Regions from separate parts of the Homo sapiens genome. Here regions 1 and 2 are each linked to region 3. The links come from fine-mapping of genetic effects on gene expression. Tissue or cell type: whole blood. Region 3 holds a variant in brackets; each other region holds the start of a gene. All regions are shown on one strand. Distances are between the middles of the regions.

Region 1 (4,121 bases), 44 kb after region 3:
ACTTGGTTCCTGCCTCTGCCTCTGTCCCTGCAGCACCTTCAGGTCTTACCCGCTCCTCTTCCCAGGTCCCCCTATCCCGGCGTCTGTCCCATGATGAGACAAACATCTTCTCTACCCCTCGGGAACCAGGCTCCTTCCTGCACAAGTGGTCATCCTCTGATGACATCCGGGTCCTCCCAGCCCAGAGCCGGGCCCTCGGGGGTCCTCCTGAGTACCTGGGACAAAGACACAGGTTGGAGGACGAGGAGGACGAGGAAGAGGCTGAAGGTGGGGGGCTGGCCAGCCTTCGCCAATTCTTGGAGAGTGGGGTTCTGGGGTCAGGTGGGGGACCCCCACGGGGTCCTGGCTTCTTCCGGGAGGAGATCACCACCTTCATCGATGAGACACCTCTGCCTTCTCCGACTGCCTCACCAGGGCACTCTCCTCGTCGGCCCCGGCCACTGGGCCTCTCACCCCGCCGACTCTCCCTTGGGTCCCCTGAGAGCAGAGCCGTTGGACTTCCTTTGGGACTAAGCGCAGGGAGACGCTGCTCCCTGACGGGGGGTGAAGAAAGTGCAAGGGCTTGGGGAGGATCCTGGGGCCCAGGCAACCCCATCTTTCCCCAGCTGACCCTGTGAGCCCAAGCAGGCCTGCTGAACTCAGAGGAGAAAGCCTGAGTGAGTAACACCTCATTCTGGCCGAGAGTAGGGCAGCTGCCTCCAGACTCTGGGGAGACGGGCGCTAGATTTGGGGCTCAGAAGGCCCTGCTCTCTCCCATCCAAGTGACCAGATGCCCTACTCAGCTTCCATCACCCCTAGCAATATGTATTAAAGTCTGAAGTGTTGCCATGGAAACCTCAGTGTCCAGTGTACTGCGGTGGAAAGGGGCTTGGAGGGTGGAGTGGCTCACAGGGGACACGACAGAGCAGGGGCAGCAGACAGAGGCACAGAAGGACACATGGAGAAATGATCACATGCTCCACCAGGCAGCCTCGCACAGGGAAGGCTGGGAGGAGCATATCCTGCTGGGGGCGGGGCTTGAGGACACACATCTTCGTTGGTTGGGGTATGAAGGATCTCTGTTCAGATTTGTTGAGGTGGTTTTAGAGCGTGGCTCCAGCCCCAGTGCCCAACTCTCCTTCTAACCTCAAATCCATGCAGGGGCTCACTTTATGGGCAGGAAAGGTTTTGGGGCTGATGCAGTGTCCCGGGCCTGGACACCTCCTCCTTGCTGCATTTTAAAGCTCTTTCTCCAAAGGAGTGCAGGGGTGGATGAGTGTGTGTGTGGGCGGGGGTGGGAGTGCAGGGGTGGATGAGTGTGTGTGTGGGGGAGTGCAGGGGTGGATGAGTGTGTGGGGGGGGTGGGAGTGCAGGGGTGGATGAGTGTGGGGGGGTGGGAGTGCAGGGGTGGATGAGTGTGGGGGGGTGGGGGGGGGCGAGGGGGGGATCGGCGTCCACACTCCTTTTTCTGGACCCAGAAGCGTGTGTGTGGAGGGAACACAGCCCCAGTAGTTACCCCCAGACCTCAGGGGCTGAAGTCACCGCTGGGGCTGAAGTCATCCTTCATGGATGCCCAGGCCTGCTCCAGTTCCCGCCTTTTGCCCTCCTCCTCCCAGTTTCTCCCTCTTATTCCACACTAGACCAGCTTTGTCCACTCAGCACTCTTCTCTCTCCATCTTTTCACATGGGCCTCTCCCACCATCGGGTCTCAGCCCCATCTTCTCTCTCTCTCTCTCTCTCGGCCTCCCTCATTATTTCTCCCTCTCCCTCCGCCTCTCCATCTCTCCTTCCTCCCCCTCCCTCCCCTTCCCCCCTTTCCTCTCCCTCCCTCTCGGCTCCCGCATTTCCCCTCGGCTGCCGGCGGCTCCGACATCATGCTCCGGCTCCTCCGGCCGCTGCTGCTACTGCTGCTGCTGCCTCCCCCGGGGTCCCCTGAGCCCCCCGGCCTGACCCAGCTGTCCCCGGGGGCGCCCCCGCAGGCCCCCGACTTGCTCTACGCTGACGGGCTGCGCGCCTACGCGGCCGGGGCTTGGGCGCCGGCCGTGGCGCTGCTGCGGGAGGCGCTGCGGAGCCAGGCGGCGCTGGGCCGGGTGCGGCTGGATTGCGGGGCGAGCTGCGCGGCCGATCCGGGCGCCGCGCTCCCCGCCGTGCTTCTCGGGGCCCCGGAGCCCGACTCCGGGCCGGGACCCACGCAGGGGTCCTGGGAGCGACAGCTTCTCCGTGCAGCGCTCCGCCGCGCAGACTGCCTGACCCAGTGCGCAGCACGGAGGCTGGGCCCCGGGGGCGCGGCGCGGCTTCGCGTGGGGAGCGCGCTCCGGGACGCCTTCCGCCGTCGGGAGCCCTACAACTACCTGCAGAGGGCCTATTACCAGGTGGGGAGCGGGCCGGGCAGCTCCGAGGGTCCCAGCCCTCACCACGACGCTGTCCTACTTTGCGTTGCCCAGGAGTAGGCGGAATGCTGTTGCCCGGGCCCCGCACGGGGCTGGGGAGCGTACCGCGGGCCTCTGCGTAGGAGCTGGCTAAGCGACCGCGAGGACCTCTTGAGATCGCAGAGGAGCAGCCGAGGGGGAGTGCGAGCAGAATGGGAATGGGGCGGGGAGGTCGTGAGGTGGGACGGGAGCAGATCGAAGATGGAGGGACAGGGCCGCCTCTTCCTAGGAATGAAGCGGAGGCGGTGGGGGCGAAACCGGCTCTCGGACGGGAAGTGTGCGTGGGTGTGTGTGTGTGTCGGGGGTGGTGGTGAGTGTGAACCTTCGCTTGGGGCAGGAGGTAGCTTCGGAAAGGAAGGAGCAGACGGAGGCAAGGTTGGGGTCCTCCGAGGCCAGACCTCTGCGGGCGGGGAGGGGACAGCACGCCGCAGCCGCCGGTACCGCAGCAGTTGCCTACGTGGCTGGGGAAGCGGGGCGCCGGTTGTACTCACCTCAGCTCAGGGTCCTAGAGACCTGCGGGTTTTGCTGGTCGCTGAGGTCTCCCCCACTTCCCCACCTCACTTAAGCCATCACTTCCACCTGGTCTCCCAAATTGAGGTCCTGAAGTCCTGAGACCCATGTCCCACCCAACTCCGACGTCTTTAGATCCCCTTTCCCTCGGTGCCAGCCTTCTGAGAGTCCCAACGTTCTGGCCTCTAGGGGATCTGCAGTTCGGGCGGTGGGCGGTTCTGATTGGCCAGTCTTCCATGAGGCTCTGGGGCACCCAGAGTGTGTGTCTGGGGTAGGGTGGGGAGGCTGGCCAGGGGGCAGAGGTCTGCCCCCCGTCCCAGGGCTCTGATGCCCTCCTCCCTTCGCCTCCTCAGTTGAAGAAGCTGGATCTGGCAGCTGCGGCAGCACACACCTTCTTTGTAGCAAACCCCATGCACCTGCAGATGCGGGAGGACATGGCTAAGTACAGACGAATGTCGGGAGTTCGGCCCCAGAGCTTCCGGGACCTGGAGACGCCCCCACACTGGGTGAGAATCCCAGCACCACCCCTGTCTTGCCACCAGCCTTTTCCTGGCTGGATACACAGGCCTCACTAAACTGTGCGTTGTGCTGCTTGAGCATACAGATGGGGTAATGATCCTCAGCGACCCTGGCTGGGAGTCCTTCTCTAGGACTTCGTTTCCTTCCTGGATGATCACTGAAATCTGATGTTCTAACATTATGATTCTGAGGCCCACCCTTATTCTTCTCCACGGTGAAGAGGGACATGGAGTCCTTGCCCCAAATGAGACCAACACCCCTCTCCTCTCTACCTCCCAGTTTGGCAACCCCTGGATCTTAGGTGACTGACTGCTCCCTTCCCCAACAGGCAGCCTATGACACTGGCCTGGAGCTACTGGGGCGCCAGGAGGCAGGACTGGCACTGCCCAGGCTAGAGGAGGCTCTTCAGGGGAGCCTGGCCCAGATGGAGAGCTGCCGTGCTGACTGTGAGGGGCCTGAGGAGCAGCAGGGGGCTGAAGAAGAGGAGGATGGGGCTGCGAGCCAGGGGGGCCTCTATGAGGCCATTGCAGGTAAGGGTCCCGTGTGTGAGGGGGTGGGTCGGTGCCCAGGGAGGGGCATGAACAAGCTGAATGGCTTATGGGTTTCCTCTGCAGGACACTGGATTCAGGTCCTGCAGTGCCGGCAACGCTGTGTGGGGGAAACAGCCACACGCCCTGGTCGCAG
Region 2 (4,121 bases), 56 kb after region 3:
GCACACGTGGGCACCTGAGCACAGGGAGCAGGTAAGGAGCGGGGTAGGAAGGGATGTGGTTCTCCTGGTGCGTGAAGGGTGGGCAAGGAGCCCCCGAGAAGGCTCACAGTCGGTGAGGGTCAGGGGCTGAGCTGACCCAGGGAAGGTGGGTGCAGGGAATGGGCCACACTCTCCTCCCCAACCCCAGGAGTGGATAGAAGCCAAAGAACTGCTGCAGGAGTCACAGGAGGAGGAGGAAGAGGAAGAGGAAGAAATGCCCAGCAAAGACCCTTCCCCAGAGCCCCCTAGCCGCAGGCACCAGAGGGTCCAAGACAAGACTGGAAGGGCACCTCGGGTTCGGGAGGAGCTGTGAGTGGCTGAGCCAGCTCCTTGAGGATGTGGCCACTTGACTTGTGGAAGGCCATCTTGATGCCAGGACACACAGGAAGCCCCTGTGTGACATCAGGAGCAGAACAGCAAGCTCTCTGTCCCTGCACCCCCACCATCTTGGGGACCTACAAGGGCCTGGACTCAGAGGACAGTGCACAGGCTAGCCTGGAGCTCACCAGGCCTGGGGAGCTGGGACGGGGCCCCGCTGCCGGACCTGCAGCCCTGGACAGATGGGGAACACTGTGCCTCCCTGAACAGAAATGGCAGGGGAGGAGGCTGATGCTTTAAATGAAGAGGATGGTGGGGTTGGGAGGTATAACCCTGCTCCTCTCTCCCAGTCTGTGCAATAAAGGTCGTGAAGATCTCTCAGCCAGGGGCCAGTCAAGTGTATCACAGATTCTGTGATGGCTGGAGGTGGGGGTGGCTCTGGCTGGCCTGGGAGGAGACAGGTGTCTTTGGGCCTCCCAGAGGCGGGGCGCCTGGAGCCTGTGATTTGTCAGGGAAATCTCAGCCACCTGCTCCCCTCATGCAAATGACCCAAGCCCCTGGCAGCTGCTCCTTAGGCCTCCAAGTGTAAGCCCTGTCTTCCCTCTCTGAGCTTTGCTGAGACTTAGGGCCGCCTGCTTTCTCTCTGACCCCTGCTTTCACAGCCTCGAGAGGGCAAGGAGGGGGCCAGACCCCAGCCTGGGAGCAGCGTGCGGGCCTTCCCTCCACTTGAAATCCGTTGCCCGCCCACAATAGGGGCAGACCTGTCCATCCTTCTCTGTGGGTCCCCTGTACCTTTCTCCCCCAACAGGATCAGACCCAGAGGCAGCTGGTTGGGGTTTGTCGAGAAGAAGGATTATCCAGATCAGTCCTTTCTAATCTCAGCTCCTGCCTGTACCCTCCCATACTCACCAAACCCTCTTCCCCACCACCCTGAGCTGAGGAGCACAGTTTGAGGTACTGACAATGGGGCCATCTATCACCCTTATATCCCACCTCCTGGCCTGGTTGCTAAGTGGCCCTGACTGCCAAGATCATCACCATGGATGGGGGCCGGGACCAGGGGGGCCACTGGAGCTGTAGTTGTCTGCTCCTTTGCACCCCTCCCAAACCCCAACCCTTAATCCTCACAGCTTTGCTCTAATCCTGTGGGGCCTGATGCTCTTATCTCTGCCTGCAGAGACTGACCAGGGAAGCACCCCTTCACCCCCTCCTCTCTCAGGGCTTGTGGTGGGGGCTGCCCCTCTCTATGGCCCCACACTCCTGCCCCCAACCCTCCTCCCGGCTGGGCCCAAGTCTCTCTGGAATCCGTACACCTCCCTCCCTCCCCCCACCCCTTCCCCCCACCCCTGCCAGCTGATTTCATTTGCCTGACGTTGTGGTTGGCTCTACCCTTCCCTGTCAGGCCCCCCCAACCCCCCGCCGGTCGGGGCCAGGCCAGGCCAGGCCAGCTCCTCTGGCAGCAGAGCCTGGGCAGGTGACGGGCGGGCGCGGGCGTCGCAGCTGAGGGAGTAAGGAGGCTCCCAGGAACCGGAGCTGGAAACCCGGCCGAGGTCCAGCCAGAGCCCAAGTAAGAGGGAGCTGGCCTGGGCTCTGCTCTCCTGGGCTGGGGCGCAGGCAGGGCTCAGGCAGGCTGGGGCTGGACGCAAAGGACCTCAAACTTGGAGGGCCTAGCTGGGGAGAGGGTGCAGCCACCCAGTCGTTTCCCTGTGTCTTGGAGTCTGGTGTGGGCACGAAGGGCAGAAGCACAGCCTGGTGGGGGGTTCCTCAACACCGACCCCATGTTCCTGGCAGGAGCCAGAGTGACCCCTCGACCTGTCAGCCATGGGGGAGATGGAGCAACTGCGTCAGGAAGCGGAGCAGCTCAAGAAGCAGATTGCAGTAACTCCAGAGCCCTACCCCTGGGGCCCCAGAAAACAGCTGGGGACATGAGGAGCGTGGCCCAGGGGGAGGGGGCTGGGTTTGCTCTTGAGTGACTAGAAGTGACCAGGGACTTTCTAAACTTGGTTCGCATATTTGAGACCCCCAAGCCCCAGAGCCCCAAGACCAACCTGCCCTGAAGGCCCATGCACCTGCCACCCCCACCTCGCCCTTGCTCCCCTGATGTCTGCTTTCCCTGCAGGATGCCAGGAAAGCCTGTGCTGACGTTACTCTGGCAGAGGTAAGACCCCCTGTCCCCCGGAAGGCAGGGCATGGGGGGAGGGGAAGGGAGCTCCCCGACCCGCAATAGCGCGTTGCTCCGAGCATTAGTACAGCACGTCCTTGGAGTGAGGAAACCCATTAATTAATTCATTCGACCAACATTTTAGCGGGACCTGCTCTGAGCCAGGCACCATATTGGATGCGAAAGATGCGGACACGGTTCCTATTCTCATCCGTAGAACAAGAGTGACCACAGCCCCCTCCCAGGGCCTTGAAGATGAAGAAGCGATAGTACTTTGTAAATTATAAAGCCCTTGTAGACTCTAGCTGCTAGTTTTCTATGCTGTATTTTGTCAATTCTAAGATGCACATTTCTTCACATTTTGACATCTCTGAAATCAAGGTGCATTCAGCAATGGATCATTGTTTCAATTAGAATTGACAGCATCTTTTCTTTCTTAGTGATGCATCTTAGATTGGATTAAATATGTTAATAGTGAACACTTTTTATGAGCCAGATACTGGGCTAAGCTGCATAAATACCTGATTTCATTGAATTTTCATGATATCTCTGTAAGGTAGGTGCTATGATAAGCCTCATTTTACACCTTGAGTAAACAGACTCAGGGAGGTGAAGCAACTTGCCCAAGATAACAAAGCAGGCCGGGCGCAGTGGTTCACGCCTGTAATCCCAGCCCTTTGGGAGACTGACGTGAAAGGATCACTTGAGCTCAGGAGTTTGAGACCAGCCTGGGCAACATAGTGAGATCTCTTCTTAATATAAAAAAAATTGCTTTTAACTTTTTAAAAAAAGATAGCAATGCAAGTGATGGCAAATCAAGTCTGTTCACTCTGGACCCCCAGCCTAAGTCTAAAATGTGGTTAGAGCTCAAGGGGCATAGTACCACAGATTTCAGGAGGTACAGTTCAGGGTCATGGTGATGCCCCAGGCACCCAGTTAAAAAGCTAGCCGTGCTGCAGCGGTGGGTGCAAGCAGGCTCCTCTCGGCTTGGGAGAGCCAGCTCTGTGCATCTCTTCCCAAATCTGTTTCCAATGACCTCACATTGGCAGCTGGAAACTGGTCAAAGTGCAAGTATTCGTATCGTGGAAATCACCTTCCCACCTTCCTCACCAACACTGGAGAGGTGCTTGTTAAACACTTACAAGCAACACACCTCTGGCCATGCATGCATCTCTTTCCCACATCAGTCTAAGACACTCCAGGGCAGAGACTTATTTCTCTAAGGCTGGGGGCCTGACCTAGAGCCTGGCACAGAGCGGGAACTTGTATAGATCAGTGGCAGTGACAGACATCTGGGCACGTAACCTGCTCACCCTGATATTCAGTGCCCCTCTCTCTGCAGCTGGTGTCTGGCCTAGAGGTGGTGGGACGAGTCCAGATGCGGACGCGGCGGACGTTAAGGGGACACCTGGCCAAGATTTACGCCATGCACTGGGCCACTGATTCTAAGTGAGGCTTGGGGGGGAACCGAGAATGGGAGGGTGAGAGCGGGAGTGAGGAAGGCGGGAAGGGGAGGCTTGCATGATATGGGATGCCCTCTCCCCAGGCTGCTGGTAAGTGCCTCGCAAGATGGGAAGCTGATCGTGTGGGACAGCTACACCAC
Region 3 (4,249 bases):
GGTTCAGGCCTGAGCCCCTGCTGCTATCCCTCCTTCAAAGGAGGAGATCAAGGAGCTTAGGGTCCCCCGCACAGGCCCACCCCAGGGTGGGGTTCTTCCTTTGAAGGGAATTGCTTTGGGGTGGGGTCGGTTCTATCTGCTCCACTCTGTGGCTGACAGTTTCTCCAAGGGGCTGCAGGTGTCAGCTGTCTGAGCCCGGGCTGAGCTCTGAAACGTGCCTACTCAAACTTCCCGTGGGGTAGGGGAGGCCCAGAACCACCCTCTGAGAGTGGCAAAAAGTGGTCCTGGAGCCAGGGGAAATGTGGATGGGGTAGAGATGGCATCGATGCTCCTAGACTTTGCTTCCCAGAGAACAGCCCCAAAGACCCCTCCCCTGCTCCCCATCCTCAAACCCTGCCCCCAGCCCCCTTTGCAGAGGGCGTCAGTGCTGCCAAAGATACTTCTGGTAAGGAGGCCACCGCAGAGTTGCACCTGGGGCTTTCAACTTTCCTGCAACCCTGGCTGCCCTAGGCCTCTCAGATCATCCAGTCTCCAGCACTCTGTCTGTAGCCTCTGACACCGGCTTCTCTCTCTTCCCCATCACTCCTTCCCCTGGCTTGGCCTCCTCCCGTTCTACAGCCTAGAGAGGCAGGATACATGCAGCAAAAATAGCCTCTGGAACTCCCCCTGTTCCATGCTTTCAGACATGTGATGGGGGCAGACAGCTTGACTTCCATTTCTTCTTCTGTAAAGTAAGGATAGTAACAGCAACACCTACCAAAAAGGTCTGGCATGTACAAATGAATGTGAAAGTGCTTGGAAAATGGAAAACCACTCTAGAGATGTGAGGACCATGGCACTGCTGAGCCTCAGAAGCTCCAGGTGAGGCAGTGGGCCTCATACCTCCCTCCACTGCTAAGGGAGAAGACTTCTCTTAGCTGTCATCCTGGCCTTTCTTCTTCTTTTTTTATTTTTTATTTTTTTTTTAGAGGTGGGTTCTCGTTATGTTGCCCAGGCTGGTGCGCAGTGGCTATTTACAGGCCCGATCCCACTGCTGATTAGCATGGGTAGCATGGAAATTGTGACCCATTGTGTGTCCGGCCTGGGCTGGCTCACCCCTCCTCAGGCAATCTGGTGGTTCCCCACTCCCGGGAGGTCACCACGCTGAAGCTGAACTCAGTGCAGACACCTGATCTGCATAGTGCACTACAGCCCAGAACTCCTGGGCTCAAGGCATCCTCTTGCTTCAGCCTCCTGAGTAGCTGAGACTACAGGCACTCGGCACCACGCCCCGCCTGGACCTTCTTTTTTTGGTTTGTTTGTTTTTGTTTTTGTTTTTGTATTTTTAGTAGAGATGGGGTTTCACCGTGTTAGCCGGGATGGTCTGGATCTCCTGACATCACAATCCGCCCGCCTCGGCCTCCCAAAGTGCTGGGATTACAGGCACGAGCCACCATGCCTGGTCCTGGACCTTCTTAATGCAGAGGAGAGGCAGTGCAATGAGGGGGACCACCCAGAAACTGGGGTCCAAGCGGGTGAATTCAAATCCCGGTTCCACCAGCTGTGGTTACTAGCTCTGAGACCTTTGACAACTGAAACTCTTCGGCTAGGCACAGTGTGACTCATGCCTGTAATCCCAGCACTTTGGGAGGCTGAGGTGGGTGGATTGCTTGAACCTAGGAGTTTGAGATCAGCCTGGGAAGCATAGCAAAACCCCATCTCTAGGGGAAAAAAAAATTTAGCTGGGTACAGTGGCACATGCCTGTAGTTCCAGCTACTTGAGAGGCTAAGGCGGGAGGATAGATTGAGCCCTGGAGGTTGAGGCTGCAGTGAGCTGTGACCGTGCCACTGCACTGCAGCCTGGGTGACAGAACGAGACCTTGTCTAAGAAAACAAAAAACTCTTCAAGCCTCAGTTTCCTCATCTGTATGGCCTGGACAATAATACCTATGTCTTATCACTCTCATGAGGATTAAATAAAAGATACAACCACATAAAGCACACAACAATGCCAAATGTTTACTATAAACTCACCCTCTCTCTTCCTTTTTTCTTTTCCTGTTTGGAAACCCCAGAGAGAGAGCCAGGTTCTCAGGACCGTTGACTTCCAGGCCACAGACTCACAGAGCTG[C/G]AAGTTCTCACACCGTCCATCGGGTCTGGAATCTGCAAACCGGTGGGCCCAAAGCTAGAGCCAGCCCTTGGAATGCTCTGTTTGCTCTACCCAGTGTCACGACAAGTTGAAAAAATTTGTTACCAATATTAAAATCAGGAGGTATTACATAAATGTCTGGTTTTCACCTTCTCTAGAAATTTTGGCAGAGCAGGCAACTCTAGGCTCACATGCCAGTATAGCCTCTACGGTCAACTCAGACAGCTATGCAGGGAATGGCTGCCCTTAACTAGCTGAGGCAAGTACTCTCTGGTTTCCCCCAGTCCCTACCCTTCCCTTTTGGTCACCACCAGTGTACCTTTCTCATTTGCACTACCTAGGGGGCTCCTGTAAGCATTTACATTTGTAGCCCTGCTCTCCTGCTCTTGTCCATACTTCTCTATTTATCCATTCAAAAATTATTTGGCCTGGTGCAGTGGCTCACGCCTATAATCCCAGCACTTTGGGAGGCAGAGGCAGGAGAATCACTTGAGGTCAGGAGTTCGAGACCAGCCTGGCCAACATGGTGAAACCCTGTCTGTACTAAAAATACAAAAATTAGCCAGGCTTGGTGGCGCACGCCTGTAATCCCAGATACTCGGGAGTCTGAGGCAGGAGATTCGCTTGAACCTGGGAGGCGGAGGTTGCAGTGAGCCGAGATCACACCACTGCACTCGAGCCTCGGCGACAGAGCAAGACTCTGTTTCCAAAAAAAAAAGAAAAGAAAAAAGAAAAAAAAATATTATTCAATAGCCAGGAGTTGCAGGGAGTTAGAATGAGGAGTCAGTATTTAATGGGTACAGAGTTTCATTTGGGGAAGATGAAAAATTTCTAGATGGTTACACAACCATGTGAGTGTACTCAGTCCCACAGAGCAGTACATTAAAAAATGCCTAAAATGGCCGGGTGTGGTGACTCACACCTGTAATCCCAACACTTTGGGAGGCCAAGGTGAGCAGATCACTTGAGGTCAGGAATTCGAGACCAGCCTGGCCAACATGGTGAAACCCCGTCTTTACTAAAAATACAAAAATTAGCCAGGCGTGGTGGCGGGCACCTGTAGTCCCAGCTACTCGGGAGGCTGAGGCTGGAGAATCGCTTGAACCCAGGAGGTGGAGGTTGCAGTGAACCTAGATTGTGCCACTGCACTCCAGCCTGGGGGACAGAGTAAGACTCCGTCTTGGAAAAAAAAAAAAAAAAAGCTTAAAATGGAAAATCTTATGTTGCGTGTATTTTACCGCAATAAATTTAATATCAATAAAATTTAATATATTAGGAAAATATTAAACAAGCATTAAGGGTCTTCCAGGGCCAAGGCATCTGTGAGGGTGCTGGGAACATAGTGCTAACTAAGACAGACACGGTCACCGCTCTGGCCTGTGAGCTAGACACTAAGCAGCAAATAACTTCATTGCAACTGGAAAATTGCTACGAAGGGAGAAGCACAGGGGACTGGGAGATCTTATCACAAGGAAAACTGATTTCAACTGAGGAACCTGAGTATCCTCTGAGACTCTGGGGAGGAAGTCCTGTGCAGGAGAATGGTAGAGCAACAAAATATAAACAGCCCCAATCTTGGCCCTGGAGGACGGCGTGCTGCTCCCTCTCTTCTGCACCACCCACCTCCACACTTCCTACATGTGAAAAATAACTTCAATCTTGTTGAAGCCTCTATTATTTTGGGTTTTCTTTTGCTTGTAGCAGAACCCAGTGCTTACCGATAGACAATTCTCCCAGTTGAAAGAAGGTTCTTTTGTGATAAGATCTCCCAGCACCTTGTGCTTTTTCCTTTGTAGCGCTTGTCGAATTGTAATGAAGTTGTTCGTTGTTTAGTGTCTATGTCATAAGCTGGAGTGGTGACCATATCTGTCTTCTTCAACATCACATCCCCAGCTACCTAGCAGAGTGCCTTGGGCTGGTACACGCTTAACTACGTACATGAATGAATGGAGCAGGGCTCAAAACATCAATGCCTACCAGAGCCTGCCAGGTAATGTAAATGAGAAAAGCAGACTGGCTGTGAACAATAGGGAGGGTGTTTGCTTTCTAGTCTGAAGGAAGAAGGCCTGAGGAGGATACATTTTCCCCACTTTGAGGAGCAACTCTGAGGTTGCACCTAAT

Evidence for each region. PIP is the estimated chance that this variant, and not a neighbour inherited with it, causes the effect.
Region 1: it holds the start of P3H3, and the variant in region 3 is fine-mapped to the expression of P3H3 in whole blood (TOPMed, PIP above 0.99). The same link has a PIP of 0.9 or more in neutrophils.
Region 2: GNB3 starts here. The variant in region 3 is fine-mapped to the expression of GNB3 in whole blood (INTERVAL, PIP above 0.99). The same link has a PIP of 0.9 or more in neutrophils.

The regions. Positions count from the first base shown.
Region 1 is chr12:6,826,588-6,830,708 of GRCh38, forward strand. P3H3 (prolyl 3-hydroxylase 3) reads left to right here and starts at 1,820. Exons shown (of 15, transcript NM_014262.5): 1 at 1,820-2,351; 2 at 3,272-3,424; 3 at 3,766-3,967; 4 at 4,052-4,121. The coding sequence starts at 1,854. It overlaps GPR162 (G protein-coupled receptor 162), which reads left to right. Exons shown (of 5, transcript NM_019858.2): 5 at 66-834. The coding sequence ends at 617. RefSeq lists enhancers at 477-1,045, 2,203-2,704, 2,443-2,502, 2,752-3,287 and a silencer at 2,183-2,292.
Region 2 is chr12:6,839,110-6,843,230 of GRCh38, forward strand. GNB3 (G protein subunit beta 3) reads left to right here and starts at 1,816. Exons shown (of 10, transcript NM_002075.4): 1 at 1,816-1,924; 2 at 2,149-2,235; 3 at 2,477-2,515; 4 at 3,861-3,967; 5 at 4,065-4,121. The coding sequence starts at 2,179. P3H3 (prolyl 3-hydroxylase 3) reads left to right here. Exons shown (of 15, transcript NM_014262.5): 14 at 1-31; 15 at 188-738. The coding sequence ends at 352.
Region 3 is chr12:6,782,888-6,787,136 of GRCh38, forward strand. It overlaps the pseudogene RN7SL380P. Among named protein-coding and RNA genes, the nearest start is that of CD4, 4.5 kb to the right of the region's middle. RefSeq lists a silencer at 3,896-4,190. The variant C/G (reference allele first, on the strand shown) is at 2,111.